Homo sapiens: one gene and its partners. The protein of the gene in region 1 purifies or fractionates together with the protein of each later gene. This does not show direct contact. Each region holds a gene or a part of one and is shown on either strand. Other genes may lie near its edges. The genes, in order: CPNE2, DDI2, NEK1, PIBF1, DNM1L, ZDBF2 and ZNF318.

Region 1 (3,500 bases):
TTGTGAAGGCATTCATTCATTCATTCATTCAGAGATGGGGTTTCACTCTCTTGCCCAGGCTGGAGGGCAGTAGCATGATCATAACCCACTGCAGCCTCAAACTCCTGGCCTTAAGGGATCCTCCTGCCTTAGCCTTCCAAGGAGTAGTGCTACAGGTGCAAGCCATGCACCTGGCCTGGGAAGGCATTTAGATGGGCCAGTTAGGAACCAAGAGGTTGGGGGAGGTTGTTTGGGAGGTGGTGATCCGTGGGGGCAGGAACAGAGTAAGAGCCTGAGGTATGTTCAGGATATGCTAAGAATTCAGTTTGCTTTGAACGCAGGGCATTTAAGTGAAGGAGATTAAAAAAACACCAAGGCAGGAGAGCCAGGCAGGGTCTGAGGGGTCCTTCACAGCCTTGAACCGAAGGGTTGGTCAGGCAGTGGGGAGCCATGTGAGGTTCCAGGACAGGGGAGTAACACACGGGAACACACAAAGGCATGGCTTCTCCCTCCAGCCTGGCCGGCTTCCCAGGCATCGCGTGGGCTCAGAAGCCAGCCAGACAACCAGGGGACGATCTCGCTAGCTCAGCTGCCCCAGGGAACTTCCTCTCTGGGTCTCAGGGGTGGCCCTGGCTTCTGGGAGTCTTTGAAGACCAAGGAGCTCATCCGGGCGAAGGGCCTGTGCATCTCCAGCGGAATTACTGCGCATCGCGGGAGTCGTTGCGCATTGCAGGAATCATTGCGCGTCGCAGCCACAAGCAGGGCACTGATGGGCAGGGCACTTCTGAACGACCCCCAGGGGAGGGCAGGCAGGGGCCAGTGCAGGGAGGGGGCTGCTGGCAGGGCTCTGGAGGCCTCCCCAGCTTGTCAGCCCCCACTGCATCATTTGTGGAGCCAGCAGCCGGTTGCTAAGAGACCTGTTGCTAAGTTGTAAGTTGGGCCTTTTTACTCCAAACAAAGCTGGTGATTATCTGCCAGGGAAGCGGCCCATTGATGGGGGAGGGTGTGGGGTGGGGATGGAGGGGGTGCGGAGAGCCGGGAGGGGACTGGTACCGTAATCAAGCCCTTCCCCGCAGGCTTGTCATTCAGCAGCAGCAGAGGCCTAGTGATCTTCTTGCTGGAGACGATCTAGGGGAGAGAGGAGAAAGGGCGCTCAGTGAGGAAGCGGGGGAAGCCCGGGAAGGAAAAATCCTCCACCGGCACCGGAAAAATCCTCTTGGCAGGGCTGCACCCCGCCCTGGCTGGCTGGTGACCCGCCTGAGCATCATCATCACCCTGGGAGGTGGACAGCAGCCAATCTGGGCAGTGAGGAGCCTGAGGCCCAGAGAGGGTAAGAGACCCGCCTGAGGTCTCCCGCTGCAGTTGGACTCCCACTGCCTGGTTTGCCCCTAGGAAAAGGCATTTTGGAGACAACTGTGGGAGGTTAGCCCCCTAACTCCCTCCTCCAGAGGCATTCCACAGACCCCACCTGCCTCAGGATATGATCTCTGATGGACAGAGTCAAGCTCAGATTCTATGTATTTTCCTTTTGAGACAGGTCTCGATCACGGCTCACTGCAGCCTCAACCTCCTGGGCTCAAGCGATCCTCCCACCTCAGCCTCCTGGGTAGCTGGGACTACAGGCATGCATCACCACGCCTGGCTTTTTTTTTTTTTTTTTTTTTTTTTTGGTAGAGACAAGGGCTCATTATGTTGCTCAGGCTGGTCTCGAACTCCAGGCTCAAGCGATCTTCCCGCCTTGGCCTCCCAAAGTGCTGGGATTACAGGCATGAGCTATAGAGCCCGGCCAATTCTTTCTATTTTTATTGGTTTCAATAGGTAATACACTTACACAGGGTGCAATAATCAAAACAACATAGAGAGGAAAAGTGGGCCACATTGCAAAGTCACCCTCCCACCTGTGTCTGCCCACTGCACTCAGGGGCCAGCATGGTTCGTGCTTCCTGGGTGCAGTGCGAGCGTCGTCCTGTGCAGCGGGGAGCACACATCAGTATGATCTAGTCCTGCTCCTGTGGGGCTAGTTCTTCTCCGCAGATCCACACACCTGCTCTGTGCCCTGGGGACTGTGCCACCTGGCTCTTTTGCCCTCTGGCTTTCAGAGGTTCAGCCAGTTGGGGGGATGGGCAGGAGACGGGAGAGCAGGTGGCGTGAGAGGTGGGGGCCCCCGTTTGATGGGAGCTTCTCCATTACTCTGTCTTCTGCCTCAGTTGCAGTCCAGAGGCCTCCCTCTATGGGCCACAGGTCTTACCAGGCCCTGGCAATGCCACTTCCTCACCCTGCCTTCCTTCCAGGTGAAGGTGGTCAGCTTTCCTCTGGGGCCAAGCCCTGGACTGGTTTCCCCATCCCTTGTCAGTTCCCTGCCCTGTCCACAAGCCCTTAAGCTCTCTTCTCAGTTATACCACAGGGTAGGGACCCTGACTACTGTACCCTGCTTCTTACGCAAAAAGTAGACATCACAACCATGGCAGTCCCTTGCTTTCTGCATGGTCACCATCTCCTGGAAGGCCCCGGGCATTTCAGTCTCCACTAGGACCCCTCAAAGCATTTTCCATTTCATTCCCTTATCAACCATGTAGGCTGGGCAGAGCAGTCATCATAATCCCCAAGGAAAATGTGGGGAAACTGAGGCCCAGAGGGGGATGGGAGCTTATCCAAGGGCATACAGCCATAAGGAATGATTGAGACTTGTGTCAGGGGCGCCTAGCCCCGCTTGCTCCCGGCCTCCAGGAGCTTACCAAGGACTGAGATGGATGGGGAAGTGTGGCCCAGAGAGGGAAAGGAAGTTTCTCAAGGTCACACAGTGAGTCTGCCACAAAGCGGGACTACTGTGGGTGTCTTGGTTGCTGGTCAGATGCTCCTACCCCCAGAGGTCAAGACCACACCTGATTATATCTAACAATCGGAATCCCTGGCCACCTGGGGCCCCAGATCCTGAGAGGCATTCTGTTTGGCTGCCTCTCCAGATGGGAGCTCTTCAGCCCGGCCTTGAACCCGCCAAGACTGTTCCCCACTCTGCATCTGCACTTTGGGACCCACCCAGGAAGATGGGGCTAGGGAAAGACAGCACGAGAAGAGACTTTTTGAGGGGTTGCCCGGTCTTTGGGCCCCTGCTCCCACCCAGGAGGGCCCAGCTCACCGTGCCCAGGCTGCAGGAGAACTGGCCCAGGAAGTCATGCTCGTCCAGCCGCATACTGGACTTGTCCTGGTCAAAGAGCGCGAACTTGAGCTTCTGTACCTCCTCGAAGTGGTAGTCAAGCACGAACTTCTTGGAGAAGGCGGGGTTGAGGTTGTTGATCGCGGTTTCTGTCCTGTCGTACTAGCAGAGGGGCAGGAAAATGGAAGTCAGAGTCAAGGCAGCTGGTCCAAGACCTCGCAGGCTGCTGGAAATCATTCTGCTAACTTGTACAATGCCTACTCTGTGCCAGGCTCTTGTGGTCATCGTCAGTGACTCACTATCCCCAGCTCACAGACAAGGACACTGAAGCACAGAGAGGTTAAGTGACTTCCCCAGGGCTGGACAG
Region 2 (3,500 bases), on another chromosome or scaffold:
CTTCAGAAGGGGTAGGAACCTTTCCAGTTTTTAATTAGTCTCATGGTCCAGTAGTAGATGTGTTCATTATTTGTCTTCTTAACCTCCTTCTTTGATCTTCCTTTTTTTTTTTTTTTTTTTTTTTTGGAGACATTGTCTCACTCTGTCACCCAGGTTGGAGTGCAGTGTGCAGTGTGACATGATTGTAGTTCACTGCACCCTTGACTTCCTGGGCTCAAGCAGTCCTCTCACCTCAGCCTCCTGAGTAGCTGGGACTACACCTGGCTAATTTTTTATTTTTAGCAGAGATAGGGTCTTGCTGTGTTGTCCAGGCCTATCTCCAACTCCTGGGCTCAAGCAGTCCTCCTGCCTTGGCCTCCCGAAGTGCTGGGATTACAGGTGTGAGCTACCATATCCAAACCCCATCTCTTAATACAATAATGAAAAAGTCTGTATTCTGGCCCGGCGTGGTGGCTCACGCCTGTTAATCCCAGCACTTTGGGAGGCTCCGGAGGGGGGGGGGGGGGGGCGGATCACCTGAGGTCAGGAGTTTGAGACCAGCCTGGTCATGGTGAAACCCCATCTCTACTAAAAATATAAAAATTGGCCAGGCGCGGTGGCTCACGCCTGTAATCCCAGCACTTTGGGAGGCTGAGGCAGGTGGATCACGAGGTCAGGAGATGGAGACCATCCTGGCTAACACGGTGAAACCCCGTCTCTACTAAATATACAAAAAATTAGCCGGGCGTAGTGGTAGGCGCCTGTATTCCCAGCTACTCAGGAGGCTGAGGCAGGAGAATGACATAAACCCAGGGGGCGGAGCTTGCAGTGAGCTGAGATCGCACCACTGCACTCCAGCCTGGGTAAGAGAGCGAGACTCCATCTCAAAAAAAAATAATAATAAAAATTAAAAAAAAATTAGCAGGGTGCAGTGGCACACCCCCCGTAACCCCAGTTACTTGGGAGGCTGAGGCAGGAGAATTGCTTGAACTTGGGAGGCGGAGGTTGCAGTGAGTCAAGATGGCACCACTGCACTCTAGCCTGGGCAACAGAGTGAGACACTATCTCATAAAAAAGAGAAACATTCTGTTTTTTAGTATTTCAACAGATTAAGAACAGCTCAGTCCATTGCTGTGTTTAAGATAGATTGGGGTTATTTTGCTTAGACACATTTTAGAAGCTTCCTAAATTTTTTTAGGAAGTTTTTTTTGGATGTTTTTGTTTTTGTGATTTTCCTAAAGAAAATTTTGACAGTAAGCAGATGTTAACTTTTGAGTCCAACAGTATTTCCCTATTTCTTTCCTTTTCTTAGGACTGTTTTATTTTATTTTATTTATTTTATTTTATTTTATTTATATAGACAGAGTCTTGCTCTGCTGCCCATGCTGGAGTGCAGTGGCGCAGCCATGGCTCACTGCAGCCTCAGTCTCAGTCTCACAGGCTCAAGCAGATCCTCTCGCCTCCGCCTCCCAAAGTATTACAGGCATGAGCCACCATGCCTCTTAGGCCTGGTTTATTTTGAAAAGTATCATTGCTACTGTGTGTGAGCAGCCCTAACTTCACCGAAGACAGAAGAACCAACAAAAAGAAGTATAAATTTTTATTTACTTAATTAAAAAAAAAATTTTTTTTTGAGACAAGGTCTTACTCTGTCACCCAGACTGATCCTCCCATCTCCCCTTCCTGACTAGCTATGACTACAGGTGCCTGCTACCATGTCCAGCTAATTTCTGTATTTTTTGTAAAGATGAGGTTTTGCCATGTTGCCCAGGCTGGTCTTGAACTCCTGGGCTCAAGCAATCCACCCGCCTCAGCCTCTCAAAATGACAGGATTATAGGAACGAGACACCATGCCTGACCAGCATAATTGAACGTTACTGAAAATGCAGTGTTATGGTGTGAGATTACAGTATTGTCATCAGGCCATATTAGCACTGTATATATTGAAATCATGCTACCTAATACTTTTTTCTAAGTCTCAGTTATTTAGCTTGTTTAAATGTAATGATGGAGCTAAGTTTTCTAGGTAAAATGGGGTAACAGTTTTGCTGAAATCCCCCATTTATTATAGAACGGTGACTCTGGGATGTATTTTCTAGAAGCTGAATAGAATTTACTTTTGAGTTTGGGTTATTTTACAGTCTTGTGCTGGCATTATTCATCAGTATGACTAGTATCACACATTGCTTTTTCTAGTACAGTAAATTATTAAGAGTTACAAGTTCAGGGAATAGCTTTATCCTAAAGACGAAAGTGGTAAGAGTTTTAAAAACAGCCAGGCAGCTTTTGCCACTGTTTTACTGGAGAACATTCAGATGTCTGTCATTGAGCTTTAGAATGGGTGTGGGTGGCAGATGGAGTTTTCCAGGTTGACTTTGTTCAGAATCAACTCCATCACCTTTTGGCTTAGTTTTATGTATAAAGTACAGTTTGAGTCAGGGCGTGGTGGCTTATGCCTGTGATCCCAGTACTTTGGTAGGCCAAGGCAGGACGACCACTTGAGCCTGGGAATTTGAAACCAGCCTGGGCAACATAGTGAGTCTTTGTTTCTACAAGAAATTTAAAAAAAAAATTAGCCAGCCATGGTGGCGCGCCTATGGTCTCAGCTGTTTGAGAGGCTGAGATGGGAGGATCACCTAAGCCCAGGAGGTCAAGGCTGCTGTGAGCCATCATCGCTGCCACTGCAATCCAGCCTGGGTGACAGAGTGAGATCCTGTGTCCAAAAAAAAAAAAAAAACAACAGAATTGACTCCCATCACTTTTTGGCTCAAGTTTTTATATTAACTACAGTTTTGGTTGTAACTTAAGTATTTTGTAGGAAGGGAGGAATTTTGAACAACCAGACAGAGACTAACTTAATAGTTTTAATCTTACCTGCAAGGTAAGCTTGAATGAATTTGACATAGCTCCTTACAAGGTTTTGCATTTGGGGTGTAATTTATCATCTTAGTCGTGATGCTGTGTGTTAATATGAGGATATATTATCATTTTATGAAATGTCTTTTTTTTTTTTTTCCTTTTAACCTCCACAGTCTTGGTGCCATTATTTAAGAAACATTAGCTGATAATAGCAGTGTTTTCTAACCTACTAATAACAGTTATCCTTTTTTGGTAATTACCTTATTTTAGTAAAAGTTTGGAAGATTAAAACAGATACACATATGTTTCCAGGCTTAGTGAAGGGGATGTACCAACTTCAAAGAATTAAAAAGAAATGGCTTTTTACCTAAATAACCTTTTGTTGCTGGTAGTATAGCTTGTGCTAATTTTTGTAATGTTTAAGTAATGAAATAATTCTACATATCAGGTCCTTTTTATTTAGAACATCGACTTCCTAATATCATCCGAATAAATACTCTGGACATAGTAGGTGAAAGTATTTTGTTAACAACTTCTTTCTGGCCAAGCATGGTGGCTCATGCCTGTGGTCCCAACACTTTGGGAGGCTGAGGTGGGGAGATCACTTGAACCTATGGATTTGAGACCAGCCTGGGCAGCATGGCAAAACACTTGTTTCTAAA
Region 3 (4,014 bases), on another chromosome or scaffold:
CAATAAATATTAAAACAATAATATCTGATAGAAATAGTAAGAATACTGGCTAAATCAATTTCTCCAATTAAAATCCTTCAACAATTCCCCATCTCCAAACTCCTCACTTTTGACATTCAAAGTTTTCTTATGGCATCATGCTTCTTTTCAAGTATATGAACTATGCTCCAGAAAAAAGTACCTCAGCCTCTAGTCAAATAAGACAGCTTTCCTCACATTTTACTAAGAATTTCTTTTTTTTTTTTTTTTTCTGAGACAGAGTCTTGCTCTGTTGCCTAGGCTGGAATGCAATGGTGCCATTTCGGCCTCCGAGGTTCAAGTGATTCCCCTGCCTCAGCCTCCCAAGTAGCTGGGATTACAGGAGTGTGACACCATACCCAGCTAATTTTTGTATTTTTAGTAGAGACGGGGTTTCGCCATACTGGCCAGGCTGGTCTCGAACTCCTGACCTCAAATGATCCACTTGCCTCGGCTTCCCAAAATGCTGGGAATACAGGTGTGAGCCACAGCGTCTGACCCAGAATTTCTTTCTTTTTTTCTTTTTTCTTTGAGACAAGCCTCACTCAGTCGCCCAGGCTACAGTGCAGTGGCAGTATCTCGGCTCACTGCAACCTCTGCCTCCCGGGTTCAAGCAATTATCCTGTGTTAGCCTTCCAAGTAGCTGGGATTACAGGCACGCACCACCACGCCCGTCTAATTTTTTGTATTTTTGGTAGATATGGGTTCGCCAGGTCAGCCAGGCTTGTCTCAACCTCCTGACCTCAAGTGATCCACCCACCGTGGCCTCCCAAACTGCTGGGATTACAGGTAAGAGCCACAGCACCCAGCCACTAAGAATTTCTTTAAAGCCACAAATAAGCAATTTTGGACATAATAAAATTTTGTGAGCCACATATAAACAATTTTAGAGTATATGAATGGAAAAGCTCAACTTCGATCAATCTGGAACACATACTTAGGTTAAGCATTAAGCTCTCATCAGGTGTTTCAGATATTCTATAGACAGGCTGTCTTGAAGGGAAACATGGTAAAGGCATGGCAACAGGTTTCAAGAAGTCTTTTGGCGCTGTATGCAGCTACAATCCATACATACAGTTCTGCCTAAGCAATAAATACCATCTTGAATAGTGGGAGGGGATCCATTTATCTTCTCAGGAAAAAAGTTCTTTATCTTCCTTTATTCGAAAAAGCAGAAAGCAAAAATGGAATTTCTATTAGACTTTTTTCAAAATATTTTTTCTTCTCTGTAAGTCTATTCAGACAATATTCAACAGATTTTGTAGTAGAAACTACCAACAGGTAAATAAAGAATGTACATTCGTGAAAAGGTGTCATGTTCATGACTTAGACTAGAAGGCAGGAGATTAGACAGGGCAAAATTTACTTGGAATACAATGTCAATGTACTATTCACACGACCTCAAAAGAACTTCTGTGGTCAAGTCCGACGACCTTTATTAAATTCCTGACAGTGACTTTTAACGTGAAAAAAACCTGTTTTCCCACAAAATAGGCTCCTTACATTTCACCTAGAACAATGGATATTTTAAGTGAAACAGATCTGTAGAACCTCTAAAACCAGACAAATGTAAACTAGAAACAAGGAGTTACTTCTCTCCAAATTTGGCTCCCCTCCATCAGCTCTACAATACTGCTGCATCATAAAAAAAGGTCATTAACTTAGATTGGATGCCACTTTTAATCCTTCATAAACATTTCTAATGAAACATACCAAGGCAATAAAAAATATTTCTGCTTCCTAAAGCAGATCTTAAAGAACAAAAAATAGGCCTGCAAAAAAAGTTATGATAAACTCTTAAAGTAGTACAACAATTAATGCCTTACATATGGAAACTGTGTCAAATCATGGAAACAGAAATCTAAGATTACAGGGTAACCAGCTAACTACTACTCATATTCGCTTCCTAATTAAAATTTATCAGTAATTTAAGATTGGACACAACATAAGCAATGCAAATGCTTGCTTATCCATACTAAGATTCCTATTATTTTAATCCCATTACCGCTCTAGTTTTTAAAAATACCGTAATGTCCAAGAATCGCTTTGTTAATACAGAGTGTCTTAGAGAATTAACATTTAAATGAGATTAAGGTATTTTCCCTGCAAACACTTAAGGTATCTGTGTAATCTCAATATAAGCAGTTCTACGCACATCTCATTTCCAGGATGATTTTTACCATTTTGCATGTCATTCCTTCCCCCAAGTGGAACTCACCTCAGTGACACAGGACGTTAGTAGGAATAACGGTGATGACTAATAAGCATCAGTCTAGGTGTGGCAGTCTTCCTACGGGGCTTAATAAAGCAGAGGTACCATCCCGCATTTTGAAAATGACATCCTGAAAGAGAAACCAAGACTGTCTAACCAGCAGCAGCTCACAGTCCAGACTGAAAGGGGGCACTGAGACTCTCCACACCTGACACTCGTCTTCAGTTGATACCACGGGTTTGACTCCGTCCTGTCTCGGGCGACGCCCGTAAGACAGGTCGACACTACCCCGACGAAACAAACAAACTGGTTTCTGAGCCCCGTAGAAACGGCGGGGTGCAGCAGGGGGAGTGCCTCCGTTACCGCCTCTCCAACTTCACAGAGGTCGTTGCTAGTGGCCACGGCGGGGTGGGGACGGGCGGCGTTCGGGACTGGGAAGCTACTTGACTGCCACGTGCTCCTGCCTCGCAACAGCGGCTCTAGATTCCGAGTTATGGGGACAACTGCTCGAGAGGCCAGGGTAGGGTAAGGACTCCGCAACCTAGGGTCCCAAAACCCTGGAGCGAATGCGGACTAAGGGAGAGCGGCCGGCGCGTCACCGGCGCTGGCGTGTGACGTCAGCGCGTGGAAGGCGGCACGCAGCGGAGGCGGCTGGGAAGGAGCAGTGAGGCTGGGCTAGAACCGTAGGGTCGGGCGGGGTGCTGTGCGAAGGGGCGGGCGGGGTGCTGTGCGAAGGGACGGGAGGGGCGGGCTCTGCAGGCGGGAAGACAGAAAGGACGAGACGGGAGAGATGAAAAGGATGGAGAGAGTGTAAAGCTGTTAAGAGTCATGCAGAGATGCGGGAGAGAACTCACTAGTTGAAACCAATTTGGAATATAAAGCATATAAAATTTTCCCACAGCTACTACACCGAGAAAGGGACTTTTTTATTTTACATGAAAGCGCACTACTTAGGGATGCCACATTTTAAAGAGCAATTTTGCTTTAAAAAGCAAGTCTTTTCCTATTATATCTTGGATGGTTGAAACAGAAGAATGTTTAAGTCTTGAGATATTTTTAAAAAGCTGTATGGGGTTTTCTACACCTTTACATCTAATGTATGTATAAATTACTTGTCTGTATGTTGAAGGGTTTGGAAATGTACAGCAGTCTAAGTACATTTTTTCACTGCAGGACTGGCGAAGGTAGGAAGAGATTCCCCTAAAACTATAATAAGGGATATCATCTGGCGTCATCCTGAGTGGCCCTACTCAGGGCAACTTTATTCCTAGGGACATTGAAAGATTTTGGCGGCTTTGCCAGACGATGGCGCTGCAAGTCACCCAACCTGAAAAGCTGGAGAGTTTGTTTTATCTCCTCTTCAATCGCCATACAGCTACAAAAGACTTATTTTCCTCATTCTTTCTACTTCTAGTCTACACTCCTGTGGGCCCTCCTACCCCCAGTTAGTAGGAATTATCATGTCTGAATGCACAATTGTAGTTCTACCCACATCCTTTTGTACATCAAAGTGAAGTGAAATGTTGCCAATTACTAATCTAAGCAAATTCTTTTTGCTGCTTACAGGAAGAATGGCTAGTCAGCTAACCTCCTTAGATAATTCTTTAGGCTCATGTCATAAACTATTGGTAGGACTACAAACTGCTACAGTCTTTCTAGAAGGTATGCTAGCAGTATGCATATCCTTTGACTCAGCAATTTAACTTCTGGAACAAGTGAGCAATGATTTATATACAAGGATAACCGTTATTGTTTATAACCAGAAAAACTAGAAATACTGTAAA
Region 4 (3,500 bases), on another chromosome or scaffold:
ACACAATTAACATCCATACACCTGTTTCCTTTTGTACATTTGTGAGAATTTACCCGGGGCATAAAAGGGCTTTTTTTTCTTCCCCAGTTTATCTTATATTTTATGACCGATGTTTTTAAACTCATTCATTCTGCTGAGTGAACTAAAAAGGGTCATAGTTTGAGTCCTTTCTTGTTTTACTATTCCATTTCTACCATAAAGATGCTTATCATGCTTTTTGATCAAGGTTATATTTTTCTTTCCTAGGTTTTTATTATAGTAAATGAAAACATATGTAAAAATAGAGGTGATATAATGAACACCCATGCTCCCATCACCCAAATTCAGTAATTATCAACTCATGACTCATCTTGTTTCAATGATCATCCGTGGCCCCGATGGATTATTCTGATGACTGTGCTTTTTAGTTTTCTCTTTTTATATTGTATCTGTCATTGCTATAGACTGATAGTGGCAGAGGGGACATGAAAATACCAACTGGTATCATCTTAGCATCATAATCTATTTCATTTTTATTCTTTTTTATTTTATATTTTTAAGAGATGAAGTTTCACTCTGCCACCAGGCTGGAGTGCAGTGGCATGATCATAGTTCACTGCAGCCTCGAATTCCTGGGCTTAAGCAGTCCTCCCACCTCAATCTCCCAAGTAGCTGGGACTAAAGGCATGTGCCACTATGCCCTCTACTTCATTTTTAAATGCTTCTTTTGAACTCCAGCTTTATTCCAGAGCCCACTGAGCACAGCTCTCATGGATTTAAAGCTCCAATAATTATCATATTTTGGCATAATGCCATATACATAAGAAATACCATGTGTCAGTCATAATGGGAGTAGAAATGACAATCTTCTATCCACAAATCTTTGCAAATTCACATACGGTATTATGCAATTTGTAATTTAAATTACACAATTTAAATCATTCATTCATTTAACAAATATTCACTGACTACTACATTTTAAGAATTATTTCAAGTGGAGTGAACAATTAAGATAAGGTCATTCCATTTATATTACATATGCAGTACATATATATTTAAAGGCTTTCATATTTATTTGATCTTAGTTTATATAGTGCAGTTATCCGTATTAGCAACATCTCATAAATGATGAAACTTAGGCTCAGAATGAAAAGAGATGTACTGAGGGACATACAGCTAAGTAGCAGCTCATTAAATTACTGAACAAACAACAGAAAAGAATATTCCAGTTAAAAAAAGGTATTTGCTATAAGTAGCAAATATTAGGAAACATATTTTCAGAAAGTGTCATTTTTTTTTTGAAAGAGTGTGTGTCTTTTGTCAGGAAGAAACAGCTGAAAAAAACTTCAGGGAAAACTGTTAAGTATTTAAATTGATTCCACTACATAAAAATAATCATCAAATAACACTGAAAAAATATTTACACACGTGTGATTTTACTGGGTTTCTATCTCTGTTTACATTTTAAGACAGCAGTGACATCTAAATAAAACAAAAACAACCAATATAAAAATACAATATAAACCCAACAAACTGCCAAAACTGCATGCATTTGTGCAAAGAAGAATAAGGTAAAAGTAAAATTAACAACTGATTGTTGGTAAAAACTCAGGTGACTTTGATGCACCCTAAAAATAGAGAACTACTACTGCAGCCATTTTAACTACTTACCTCTTGACTTTATCATAGTTCTCTTGACGGTAGTCACCTTGCTGAATTAACTGTTTTGTGTCTGCTAATTCTAAGGCCAAACGTTGACATCTAATTTGAACTTCAGAGTAGTTTTTTCGATCTTCCTCATATGTCTATAAACCAAAGGAATAATAACACATTTCAGACTAAACACTTAACATAGTTGCCCAAATTCTGTATTGAAGTCTTCTGTTAAGCTGTGATTGTCCTTGTAATTAAACAGTAAAAAAAATTCCTCAATTTTTAAATTTAGTAATTTTTCCCTATTCAAAGGCAAGTAATCTTAAGTTCACAGAGTGGTCTGTAAACTCAGTTGTTTAAAACTTAAACTGTTTTTCAAATAAATAACACAACAACTATGTTTTAGTTACTAGGCTAAAACATAAAATGACTACAAATGTTAAATGACTTTTTAAAAACATTTACTGAGTTACTATCAGATGCTGAAGATACAGAAGTGAATAAAACACACTTCCTGTTCTTGAGGATTTTACAGTTTAGAGATGAAAAGTCATATGGATATCAGTATCTACAATGAAAAATAATTAATGAAGAGATTAAACATGCAGTTCCAATTGTGTTACTCAGAAAAAAAGGAATCGTGTGACCCTCGAAACACATCTTTACATTGTTCTTCCCTCTACTCTCCCCATGTCAGTAGCATGTTAAGAAAGGCATTGCTGATATGGGAAGAGCAATGGAAGTAAAAACCTTAAAGTTGGTCACAAGGTTCTTTACAATCTGGTGCTGCTTCCTACAAGCCCCATTTCTCACCATTCCTAACATTCACACTTCACCCTCCAACCCTAATGGAGATCTGAAATTGTCTGAACCCACTAATGCTGCTTCTAACCTGTTCCCACTGCCTGAATACCTGCATATAATCTAAATGCTTGTCTCCTTCAGAGCACTGATCTCACTGTATCATTACCATCACATTAGTTTTCTCTTTATCTCACCAGAGTGTAAACATCTTAAGGGTGGGGATTTTGTCTTGCTCAACGCTGGACCTCCACCACTTTAAACACTGCCAGGTATATAATAAGAATTAAATAAAAGCTAAAAAAGAAATGATTAAATATGGGAAGCTGGGAGGGGAAGCAGACGGGACTAAATTCCTACTTATTTTCCTTCTTTGAACTCATCAAATCTTGCAACCAATCATCAACTCCACCTTCAGAAGCTGGCATGTTAAATGCATCCTGTGTTAAGTCATTACTGCTTAAGTAGCTGGCCAGCTAAATGAGGTCATGTTCACTCCACACATACTGACTGGATCATTTCTGTGTGACTGGTCACGGATTAGGCACTACAGATACAAAGATGAGTAAGACGATTTTGTCCTTTTTAAACTACTAAATGTAACTTTGATTATTTTAGTCCCCAAATTTCTATCAAAGGGCTATTTGAGAGAAGTAATTATGGAAAAACTACATTCAGTGTGTTTTGCTTTGGTATGGTATTATGTTCTTGTTCTACGCTGAAGTTTTCCATGAGAATGGAATGTTACTATGGTACTTATTATGGGATTACAGCTGAGGATACGCTATCACCTCCCGAAAGATCATCACATATATCATTTCGGACCTAAGTCCTACAAGAATCTTTAGTTCTTCTGAAGAATGCTTTATCCTTCTAAACATCATTAATCATGTCACTGTTTTGGAAGAGAGTATAGTGTTATGGCTAGGAAGGCAAGCTCCAGAATTCAACTGTCTAAAACTGAATTCCTGCAGTAAGACTCTGTGCACGTTAGTTTACCTCTCTATTCTGGTGTCCTACCTCAGAGTTCTTGTGAAGCATATATCAAGTAATACATGTAAAGTGCT
Region 5 (3,500 bases), on another chromosome or scaffold:
GGAGCAATAGGCTATCCCATATAGCTTAGGCGTGTCATAGGCTATACCATCTACGTTTGTGTAAGTACACTCTGTGCTGTGCATGTAATGAAATCACCTAATAATGCATTTCTCAAAGCATATCCGTGTCATTAAGTGACATATCTTTTGTGTGAATAATACTAGATTATGTAGATATACTGTGTTTAAGCATTCATCAGCTGATGTTTGGATTTTTCTCACTTCTTGGCTATTATGAATAAATGCTTATTGAAGAGTTTTGAAATAAAGATGATGAAAAGAAGGTAAAGTATCAAGAATTGTTGCTTTTGTTTTTTTTTTTGAGACACAGTCTCACTCTGTTGCCCAGGCTGGAGTGCAGTGGCGCGTTCTTGGCTCACTGCAATCTCCACCTCCTGGGTTCAAGTGATTCTCGTATCTCAGCCTCCCGAGTAGCTGGGATCACAGGCATGTGCCACCACACTCAGCTAATTTTTTATTTTTAGTGCAGACGGTGTTTCACCATGTTGGCCAGGCTGCTGTCAAACTCCTGGCCTCAAGCAGTCCACCCGCGTCAGCCTCCCAGAGTGCTGGGATTACAGGCATGAGCCACTGCGCCTGGCCGAGAACTGCTTTTCTTAATGTTTAATTACAGTTAAGCAAAAATCTAAAGGGCGATTATGCCATTAATGAAATATCCAAAGTAGTAGTGTTCTTACTTAACTTTATTTCATGAGGTTAGCATCTAAGCCCAAATTGTTAAAAGTAGAATTTTGGCTAAAATTCCATAATTTGGTTGTGTTTTGCAGTGTGCCAAAGGCAGTAATGCATTTTTTGGTTAATCATGTGAAAGACACTCTTCAGAGTGAGCTAGTAGGCCAGCTGTATAAATCATCCTTATTGGATGATCTTCTGACAGAATCTGAGGACATGGCACAGCGCAGGAAAGAAGCAGCTGATATGCTAAAGGTATTGTGGACCTTTTGATTTTTTATACTTGGGTAGTAGATAGAAACATAGAAATAGTTTTAAATGCAGTTTGATTCTTGGATATGTATAGTCTTTATATTCTAGCTAGGCTTGTTTCCTGTTGGTACTTGATAAGAATCTTTTTTTTTTTTTTTTTTTTTTTTTGAGTGGGAGTCTGGCTCTGTCGCCCAGGCTGGAGTGCAGTGGCACAATCTCGGCTCACTGCAAGCGCCGCCTCCCAGGTTCACGCCATTCTCCTGCCTCAGCCTCCCGAGTAGCTGGGACTACAGGCGCCCACCACCACACCCAGCTAATTTTTTGTATTTTTAGTAGAGACGGGGTTTCACCATGTTAGCCAGGATAGTCTCTAACTCCTGACCTCATGATCCGCCCGCCTCGACCTCCCAAAGTGCTGGGATTACAGGCATGAGCCACTGCGCCTGGCCGGTACTTGATTAGATTCTAATTCCAGAGAAGATATTGGTTAGTATAAACTGGTTAGTTATAAACCTACCACATATATATTGGAAAAATTACCCTGCGTAATTCAGATTAATTTCATAACTTTATAATAAGCATTTAAAATTTTTTTTCCTTTAATGCAGGCATTACAAGGAGCCAGTCAAATTATTGCTGAAATCCGGGAGACTCATCTTTGGTGAAGAGAACTATGTAATACTGAGACTTTGTTGACTCAAAACTTGCTAGTTACTGCCTACCTGAGTAGAATCTTATTTATGAACTCCTGTGTATTGCAATGGTATGAATCTGCTCATGTGGAGACTGGCTATAAACTGAAAAGTGTATTCCAAATTGCAGAACACATCACACATTTAATCCAAATAATAAATGGCTGTTTCTAAAGTTTCCCAGTATATATAAAATACATCAAGTCTGTCTTGTGACAGTTTCATCTGAACTTAACTTAAAAACAACTGTTAATGTTCTAGTTGTGCAAAGCAGTTTGCCTGTGGATAAGATGACCTGTGTAATAATCTTTGTTAGTAGTCTTAAAGCTGCTGCCATAGTCCTCCAAGAAGAAAGCACCAAGACAACATTTCATATGACTATAATGCATGTACTATATAAGCTGATCTGGCTTTGAAAGATGTGAGTTGGCAAGTTCCTCACATAGAGTCATTGTATTCCACCTGTCCTTCAATTTAGTTTTTTCTGAGCTTCTTTGCAGCCTTTGATGTGTTTTTAAGAAAGCTGAATGCACAAGAGGATCTGTGACACTGACATGGCTGTGGTGTGCATACTGTGTAGTTACATAGCCCTTCCAATTCTGGGTCCATTTGCACTAGCAAATTAAAATATGCTTTGATTCATACTTAAACCTGAAAGCAGGAATGCCTACATTAATTCCTACATTAAAAACAGCCATCTACCCTTGATTATCTAGAAAGACTTGGTAATGATGGTCAGTTCCTTTTAGATTTCAGAAAATCAAATGATGACCTAAATTTCCCTTAATTTGCAAATACAGTAGTAATTAAGGTACATCTCTAAAGTGGAGCACTTACACCAGGCTCTAAGATTCACTTTGAGGTGGAACTTAAAACCAGTGTACTGTATGTATGCATTGGTAATAGCTACTTTTGCTTCATAGCTTCATACCAACAAAATATATTTATTAGAATAGTATGAAAGTACTGGAGGAGCTGAAAGAAAAACACCCAAGGCTGGGCGTGGTGGCACACGCCTGTAATCCCAGCACTTTGGGAGGCCGAGGCAGGTGGATCACCTGAGGTTGGGAGTTGGAGACCAGCTTGACCAACATGGAGAAACCCCGTCTCTACTAAAAATACAAAATTGGCCGGGCGTGGTGGCGCATGCCTGTAATCCCAGCTACTCGGGAGGGTGAGGCAGGAGAATTGCTTGACCCTGGGAGGTGGAGGTTGTGGTGAGCTAAGATCGTGCCATTGCACTCCAGCCTTGGCAACAAGAGCGAAACTCCGTCTCAAAAAAAAAAAATAAAACAACACCCAGATAGATACACATACTCCTTCAGACTTACAGACCTAAGCTGCATTTATGGGGTAGTGATGAGGTTTAGAACATATACATATTTTGTTAAAATTCCCCAGATGATTCTTGGTATGAACGACTATATTATAAATTTTAAGATGTACTTAGAAATCCTTAAGACATCTAGCCCCGTCTCTAATAGACAACACATTTATATTGCAGATATTACTTTTTTTTCAGTTTATGACCAGGTATTTATGAAGGACTATTGGCAGGGAAAATATGAATATGTTAACTTTAGCTTATGGCATCAATTTACTAAGGAACAACAGGCTCACCAACTGATGTCAAACATAAAAACCCCCACATCAGTCTGATACGATATGGTACTACTTTGAATCTGTTACTAGTACCATCTTGACAGAGGATACATGCTCCCAAAACGTTTGTTACCACACTTAAAAATCACTGCCATCATTAAGCATCAGTTTCAAAATTATAGCCATTCATGATTTACTTTTTCCAGATGACTATCATTATTCTAGTCCTTTGAATTTGTAAGGGGAAAAAAAACAAAAACA
Region 6 (4,020 bases), on another chromosome or scaffold:
AACGAGAGTTTATAAGATGCATCTTGATTTCACAGATGTTAAAATGTGGGGAAAAACATGGCTTAGCATCTGTGAAATACATAATGTCATGGTGCTTCGATCAATGTATAGTGGATTTTCTATAATTCCAAAGTTGGGATGTGGAAAAAACTTGCCTTAAAAGAAATCCGTACTTTTTGGTATGTTAAATCTAAGGGAGGTTATAAATCGAACAGTTGCAGGAGCCCAACTTTAAAGTGAGAGAAAGATGTAGTGGGGGAAGAAGGAGCTGAGAAATACAGAAAGAATAAAAACAATGGACGCAAAAGCAATAGGCAAGTTTTTTTGTTGTTGTTCTTTAAAGGGACAAAATCACAAGCTTACTAAAAAGGGTAACGACAATTACAGCTACAGCCAAAGAGCAAAGTAGCTCATTTTAAGATTATTTTTACATTAGACATAAGCTTTGCAACAGGGCCTCTCTCCATTTTAGTAAAATTGGTTTAGGTGTTTCAGAACCTTCTTATCGCAGATTATAATTTCATATTCAGTAGTGTGATTCATTTAGGTTTGTGATCTCCGTTACACTTAAACTGTTTTTGCTCACAACTATATTCGTAATGGGGTAGCGCAGTGAATATAATTGCATGACCTAATGTTGTTTGTTAATATTTGTAACCCTTTAATGTGCAGGATAGATCTTTGAATACCTAACTTCCTTAAGCCTCAGTTTTCTCAATTTGTCAAAGGGGGACAATAATAGGATTCATTCAGAGTTACTCTGAAATGAAATGCAATAATGTATAGAAACCTTAAACGGTGCCTAGCACAGAGCAAGCGCTCATTGAACAGCAGCTTTTGTGAGATGCACCTCACTATGAAATAGGCATGGAAACGGAAACGACTAGCTCTCTTAGCCCCGTTTTCTTTTCTACATTCATACGTTGCTTTGAATTGGCAAGCAGTTTTTATTTGGACCCTCAAACGCTAAAACCTTGGTCTCTACTTCGCGTCCCAACTGTGCTTATGAGTCTAGTCATTTTTGTTGGAACGCGATAGATTTCCCAAGCTCCGGAGTGGGGCCCTGACCAGGGAGGAAGTGTCCGCTTTAAGAGCTTCTGGAGGGGAGGAAGGGGCTCCTCCGCCCGGGTGGGAGAGTGAGTGAGTGGGTGGGCGGGCAGGGGGCGGTCCCGCCGCTCCTGCGTCAGAAGGGGTCTGGTTTTCGCACCTTCCCTGACGTCAAACCTCCATCAGGGTTGCAACGCCACGTTGCCTTGGATGCCTGCGTGAGTGGAGTCGCGACTCGGGGCCCGCGTCCTGAGAGACGCGCTCCCGCGCCGCTTCTCGCCTCCGGACCGCAGGGGCCGAAGTCGCCTATTTCTGGCTCCGCGGGCAGCGGGGCCGTGGCGCTCGGACGGTCTGGGATTCGGGCGCCGCCGCGGAACCGGAATAAGAAGGGAGAGCGCCCGGCTCGGTCCTCGGTCTCCACCGCGGCCCGGAAGGAATCCGGGCAGCCTCCGCGGAGGTGAGTGCCGCGGCGGGGGCGGGGCGCGGCCGGGGCGACGCCCGCGGGCGGGGCCTGCTCGCCGGGCGCCCGGGGCGCCTTCTTCCCGAGGGACGCCAGGACCGCTCGCTGGGCTCCCGCGGCCGCCTCGCAGGTCCTCGGCTTCCCCCCACCCCGCGTCCCTTTCTGCCCCTGCTGCGTGAGAGGTGTCGGCGGCTCCGGGCCGGGATCGAGGTGGCGGGGCGAGGGAAGGAGGTGGGGCGCAGGCTGCATTGCGCTTCTGTCCGGGGCCCTGGGTCAGAGGGGCCGGCGGACGAGGCCTCGGGTCCGGGCTTGGGGAGGGGGCGGTCTGCGGGGTCGGATTGAGGGCCGGGAACCCGCGGAGTCTTGCCCCTGGGCACCTGTGGGGCCGAGATCCCGAGCCACCTGTCCACACACCCCCTTCCCCCAGTGCCCTGCGTTGGGTCCAGCTGGCCCCAGACCTAGGCCTTTCCCAGCCTCGGGCGATTATAGTTTATTTGAAAACGTTTGATTTTTGTGTTAATGATTCTTTTACTACCGCCGTGCAACAGTTGTGTAAATGTGGTCGTGTTACGCCATCGTTTTTACTTGCTCCTAAGAAGGGCCTTACCAGCTCCTGCGATTATCTCACGCGATGATTCTTGGTAGCTCGTGAAAAAAATGCATAACAAGATACTGGTTCTCAAGGGACCAAAACCCCACCCCCACCTAAAGGAAATAGCTTGTTTTTGTTTTTCTTTTTTACAGCAATATGCTACGTGTGGGGAGGGGGAGGGACGATGGAGGCAGCCTGTAGCGATCTCATCCTCGAGAGAATCTGCTAACAATTTGGGGGGTATCTTTCCTTCCTTTTTAATTAATACACAAACATATATACGTGTGTTACATAAGGGGTGTTTATTTGCTTTTTTCACTTAATACGTGGAAGACCTTTTCTCTATCGTTTGAACCTAAAGCCTAGAAGGCAAGAAAGCAACTCGTTAGAGAGTTGATAAAGTATCACTGCAGTGGCCAGTGATTTGGATAGAAATAAGCTGAATTCAGGGTAAGAACTGGTTTCTATAAAATATGGTTTACTCTGCATAATAATTGGAGGCAGTGTTTTTTCAAACTGAGTTTTTTCAGCCGGTTCGTGAATGGTGAAATTAATTTAGTCATGACTAGCATTTAAAAAAAAATAAGATCGCATAAAAAAATCAGAATGCATTATATGTAATGAGAGTATTGTTTTGTGAAAAATATTTTAACTGTGCGCGTGTGCATTGTGAAATTTAGTGGGTCGTGACTAGCATTAAAAAAAGTAAGATCGCATAGAAAATATCAGACTGCATTACATGTAATGAGAGTATTGTTTTGTGAAAAATCTTTTAAGTGTGCGTATGTGCCTGTGCGTGTGTGCTCGGTTGTAATTAAAAATTTATTGGTTCCTGTGTGTCATGTTAAATAATCTTGAGAGTCGCTAATCCAAGGTACTGTCAGCACTCAAATGAGCAAGATGCAATTAAACTAGACATTAGTTTTATTTTTTCTTTGGAATAGTGGTGATGTTGATTGCAGCAAATAAGAGTCCTAATTATTTGTTTTCACCTAATATTAAAACAAGTAGTATTCCTAAAAATACAGAGAGGAAGTGTCTAAGTCGTTAAGAGGTTAAAGCATAAACTACTCAAATTGACCAGTGATCACATCTCAGTTACGCTGGTTATTGGTGTGAGACCTGCAACAAGATACCTCTTTTCTCTCAACCTCAGTTCCCTGATTTGTTAAATGGGAATTAATCATGGCAGCTACCTTATAAAGCTGTTTGTTATTTAGATGAGATAATGCACAGGAAGCTGTTGACAGAGCGCCTGGCTCAGATTAAGTACTAAGTATTAGCTATTATTATTTTATTAAGACTGAATAGAGGTGTCTAGGATAATGCTTGTCACCAGAGGAAAGCCAGCATAGCGTGGATAATCCAGAAAAGGGGAAAATTGAAAATTAGTAGTGTTGTGTGGAGGAACTGACACTGAATTAGTGTGGTCTTTTTATGCATTCGGCCATTGTTTTGTCATTGCTCCTCAATTGTTTCCCTACTGCTGGACGGAAAATTTAGATTGTCTTATTCAGAAAACCAAATGCCTTTCTATTGTCTTTCCTTATTATTATTATTTTTCAAATTAAGTTGATGTCTCTTTTGTCAGGCAGTTGAAAAATATGTTTTATGAGGATTGTGGGTTTTGTTAGTTCTTACCACACTGCCACGCCACACTCAGTTTGAGAAATACACACACGACAACTCCAGACTCATTTCAGAAATATTTTTATCCATGTTTACCTCTGCAGCTGGTGCAGATCTCAGGTGTGCAAGAAATATTTCTTTAAAAAAAAAAAAACCAAAAACAAAATGCTGTTTTATTTGTATTTTAAGACATTTCTGCCTAAGTCATCTGGGTAGCTCAGAAATCTCTGTTCACTGCCTGGGATAGGTTTATGCAATTTTAAATGTTACATAAATGAATGAAATAAGAAGG
Region 7 (3,078 bases), on another chromosome or scaffold:
GGGTAAAGGAGCTGTCTGAGGGGATAGTTGATGAGGGAGTAAGTACCAGCATTGGACCCCACAGCATAGATGATTCTAATTTGAACCATGGAAACAGATACATGTGGGAGGGAGAAGTAAAACAGCCCAACTTGCTAATGATTGACAAAGAGGCTGAACAGTCCAATAAATTGATGACAGGAAGTGAAACTCCAAGTAAAGTAGTGATCAAATTGAGTCCACAGGCTTGCTCTTTCACAAAGGCAAAATTAGACTCATTTTTATCAGAAGCTAGGTCTTTACTCAACCCACAAGATACACCTGTGAAAATTTCTGCCCCAGAGTTGCTGCTTCATTCCCCAGCCAGATCAGCTATGTGTTTAACAGGTAGTCCACAAGAGCAAGGAGTTTCAGTTGTTAGTGAGGAGGGGCTAGAGAATTCAGCTCCAGAATCAGCTTCTAGAACTTCTAGGTACAGAAGTCTCAAACTCAAGAGAGAAAGATCAAAAGACTTTCAAGTTAAAAAGATCTATGAGTTGGCTGTTTGGGATGAAAACAAGAAGAGGCCAGAGACCTGGGAGAGCCCAGAGAAACCAAAAACAGAAGCACTGGAGCTACAAGATGTCCATCCAGAGTTAACAGTGACAATAGAAAGCAAGGCCCTAGAAGACTTTGAAGCTACAGACTTAAAGGTAGAGGAGCTTACTGCCCTGGGGAATCTGGGGGATATGCCTGTTGATTTCTGCACTACTCGGGTAAGCCCAGCACATAGATCCCCAACTGTCTTGTGTCAGAAAGTGTGTGAAGAAAATTCTGTATCACCTATAGGGTGTAATTCCTCCGATCCCGCTGACTTCGAACCAATCCCATCTTTTTCTGGGTTTCCGTTAGATTCTCCCAAAACCTTGGTGCTTGACTTTGAGACAGAGGGTGAACGAAACTCACCTAATCCCAGGAGTGTTAGGATCCCTTCTCCTAACATTTTGAAAACTGGACTTACAGAAAATGTTGACCGTGGCTTGGGGGGCCTAGAGGGAACACACCAGGCCCTTGACCTGTTAGCAGGAGGAATGATGCCTGAGGAAGTAAAAGAATCTTCCCAATTAGACAAACAAGAGTCACTCGGATTGGAATTAAAAACAATTAATTCTGCAGGCCTTGGGCCATCTCCTTGCCTTCCAGACCTTGTTGACTTTGTCACACGGACCTCTGGAGTTCAAAAAGATAAACTGTGTTCTCCACTCTCTGAGCCAGGTGACCCTTCTAAATGTAGTTCCCTGGAGTTGGGGCCATTACAGCTAGAAATATCGAATGCATCCACCACAGAGGTGGCAATTCTGCAAGTAGATGATGACAGTGGCGACCCTCTGAATTTGGTTAAAGCTCCAGTGTCAAGGTCCCCTCCAAGGGAGCAGGTAATTGAAGACAATATGGTCCCTCAGGGAATGCCTGAACAGGAAACTACAGTTGGTGCCATCCAGGACCACACAGAATCCAGTGTTCACAACTAAGAATAAATACCTAGAGCTACTTGTGAGTGAATCATTGGCTTCTAGAAATCAGATGCCCAGATGATCCAAGACTAGTTTGTTATCTCATCTGGAACCTACACCAAGAGATGCAGTCAGCATCTTAAAGTAAATGTTCATGGAAGCTAAAAAATTTACCTCCTTTCCTTTTCCCTTTCCCCTTAAAACACCAGACAAATCGATAACAACTTATATATATATATATATATCTGTAAAAATGTATTTTGTTAATTTTTTTGGCCAATTTATTTTCTCCCACTTTGTCATTAAAATCACATGTCTAACTGGCTCACCACATAGTGTGCTTTGATTGTATTTTGGCTTTGACTCTGCCATTTCTGAAATGTGGGGGAGGATGGAGGCAGCTGACCTCTCCAGTTGCTGTGTTGTATTCCTACCCAATTTCCTGGGCAGTTGATGCATCTCTGGGAAAAACACCAGAAAGCTTGCTGAAATGGAAAACTTGGAAGAATTGTTCATCTCTTAGGCTTCCATTTGGATGGGCCTGCCTTAACATTGTTTGAAATGCAGCGTGAGTAGCTCTTTTGTTTACTGTTTACACCCCTTATTGGCATGTCAACTCCTGTACTTCCCTTACTCTGTTGCCTTTCTTGAGATGCATTGTCCTGCTAACCCACAAACCTGTTTGGAAATAAACATGGAAGAATATCTGGCAGGCTTACTTTTAGAAGACGACAAATCGGTAAGGCTTATTCATGGTTCATTGCCAGGAGCAGATATGCTTTTGAGATCACTTTTATTTTTGAAATGGCCTTTGTTCATTGTATTGTGATCCAATAACACTTTGTATTAAATTGTTTAGCAGCCATTTGTGTTGTGAAGGGGTAGAAGATCTCTGAAACTTGTCTTGAGATTGAACTCATTCCCTGTTCCACAAACCCATATGTATCCTTTCCTCTACCTCCTCCTTTCCCAATTAATTTCAACCATAGTACGATGTTTGGGGTTGTATATTTTGTTAAAAAGATTAAAGAATTTATGAGTTGGCTTGGACAAGTTTAACTTTATTTTTAATGTGTTAATTACTTGGAATAAATGCATTAATCTCATGTTTCCTTCTGGATTTTTGTTTTGAAATCACACACATTTGAACTCCAAAGGAAAACTAGAACAGTGAATCCCTGCTGCCCTATTGTCTATCCGCACCCGCAACCATGCTTTCCTCACTTGTCAGAACTACTTCATGCCAGAATGTTAGGATATATAGTCTGCCCCAGCGCAGCCTGGGTGGGTAGTGAGTAGGCAACAGTTGTCTGGTATTGGTATCTTCCTGTTGTGAAGCTTTTTATATACCTTTGTGTTGACTCTCCGTAGGATTTTCTGGGAACTGAGCTCCCCTAGGACAATCAGGTTCTTGCTCTTGGGAATTAGGGAGCTCAGTCCTCAGATTTTCTCTGTCCCAGTTTCCTCTTGTATCCCTGTTGTCAGCAGTTTATAACCTGACTCAACAGGGCCTTCGGAGTCTTATTTACCCACCTGTTCCTCAAAGATAATACAAAATTGCTGATCTGGATTAACCTCCCCGCTCCCCCAATTTTTTTTTTCCTGT

Evidence for each region.
Region 2: the proteins of CPNE2 (region 1) and DDI2 purify together in Homo sapiens (co-immunoprecipitation; 3 studies listed by BioGRID and IntAct, with this or other methods). This does not show direct contact.
Region 3: the proteins of CPNE2 (region 1) and NEK1 purify together in Homo sapiens (affinity purification with mass spectrometry; 2 studies listed by BioGRID and IntAct, with this or other methods). This does not show direct contact.
Region 4: the proteins of CPNE2 (region 1) and PIBF1 purify together in Homo sapiens (affinity purification with mass spectrometry; 2 studies listed by BioGRID and IntAct, with this or other methods). This does not show direct contact.
Region 5: the proteins of CPNE2 (region 1) and DNM1L purify together in Homo sapiens (co-immunoprecipitation; 3 studies listed by BioGRID and IntAct, with this or other methods). This does not show direct contact.
Region 6: the proteins of CPNE2 (region 1) and ZDBF2 purify together in Homo sapiens (affinity purification with mass spectrometry; 2 studies listed by BioGRID and IntAct, with this or other methods). This does not show direct contact.
Region 7: the proteins of CPNE2 (region 1) and ZNF318 purify together in Homo sapiens (affinity purification with mass spectrometry; 2 studies listed by BioGRID and IntAct, with this or other methods). This does not show direct contact.

Annotation. Positions count from the first base shown.
Region 1 is NC_000016.10:57,113,083-57,116,582, reverse strand, and holds part of CPNE2 (copine-2), read right to left. Parts: intron 3,296-3,500; coding exon 3,116-3,295; intron 1,108-3,115; coding exon 1,033-1,107; intron 1-1,032.
Region 2 is NC_000001.11:15,651,958-15,655,457, forward strand, and holds part of DDI2 (protein DDI1 homolog 2), read left to right. Parts: intron 1-3,500. UniProt on the Homo sapiens protein: Aspartic protease that mediates the cleavage of NFE2L1/NRF1 at 'Leu-104', thereby promoting release of NFE2L1/NRF1 from the endoplasmic reticulum membrane.
Region 3 is NC_000004.12:169,609,784-169,613,797, forward strand, and holds the start of NEK1 (serine/threonine-protein kinase Nek1), read right to left. Parts: upstream 2,801-4,014; 5' UTR 2,439-2,800; exon of another isoform or gene 2,361-2,438; 5' UTR 2,237-2,360; intron 1-2,236. UniProt on the Homo sapiens protein: Phosphorylates serines and threonines, but also appears to possess tyrosine kinase activity. Involved in DNA damage checkpoint control and for proper DNA damage repair.
Region 4 is NC_000013.11:72,820,133-72,823,632, reverse strand, and holds part of PIBF1 (progesterone-induced-blocking factor 1), read right to left. Parts: intron 1,785-3,500; coding exon 1,651-1,784; intron 1-1,650.
Region 5 is NC_000012.12:32,741,801-32,745,300, forward strand, and holds part of DNM1L (dynamin-1-like protein), read left to right. Parts: intron 1-788; coding exon 789-948; intron 949-1,553; coding exon 1,554-1,610; 3' UTR 1,611-3,500. UniProt on the Homo sapiens protein: Functions in mitochondrial and peroxisomal division.
Region 6 is NC_000002.12:206,273,443-206,277,462, forward strand, and holds the start of ZDBF2 (DBF4-type zinc finger-containing protein 2), read left to right. Parts: upstream 1-1,220; 5' UTR 1,221-1,504; intron 1,505-1,567; exon of another isoform or gene 1,568-1,738; intron 1,739-4,020.
Region 7 is NC_000006.12:43,335,570-43,338,647, reverse strand, and holds the end of ZNF318 (zinc finger protein 318), read left to right. Parts: coding exon 1-1,490; 3' UTR 1,491-2,578; downstream 2,579-3,078.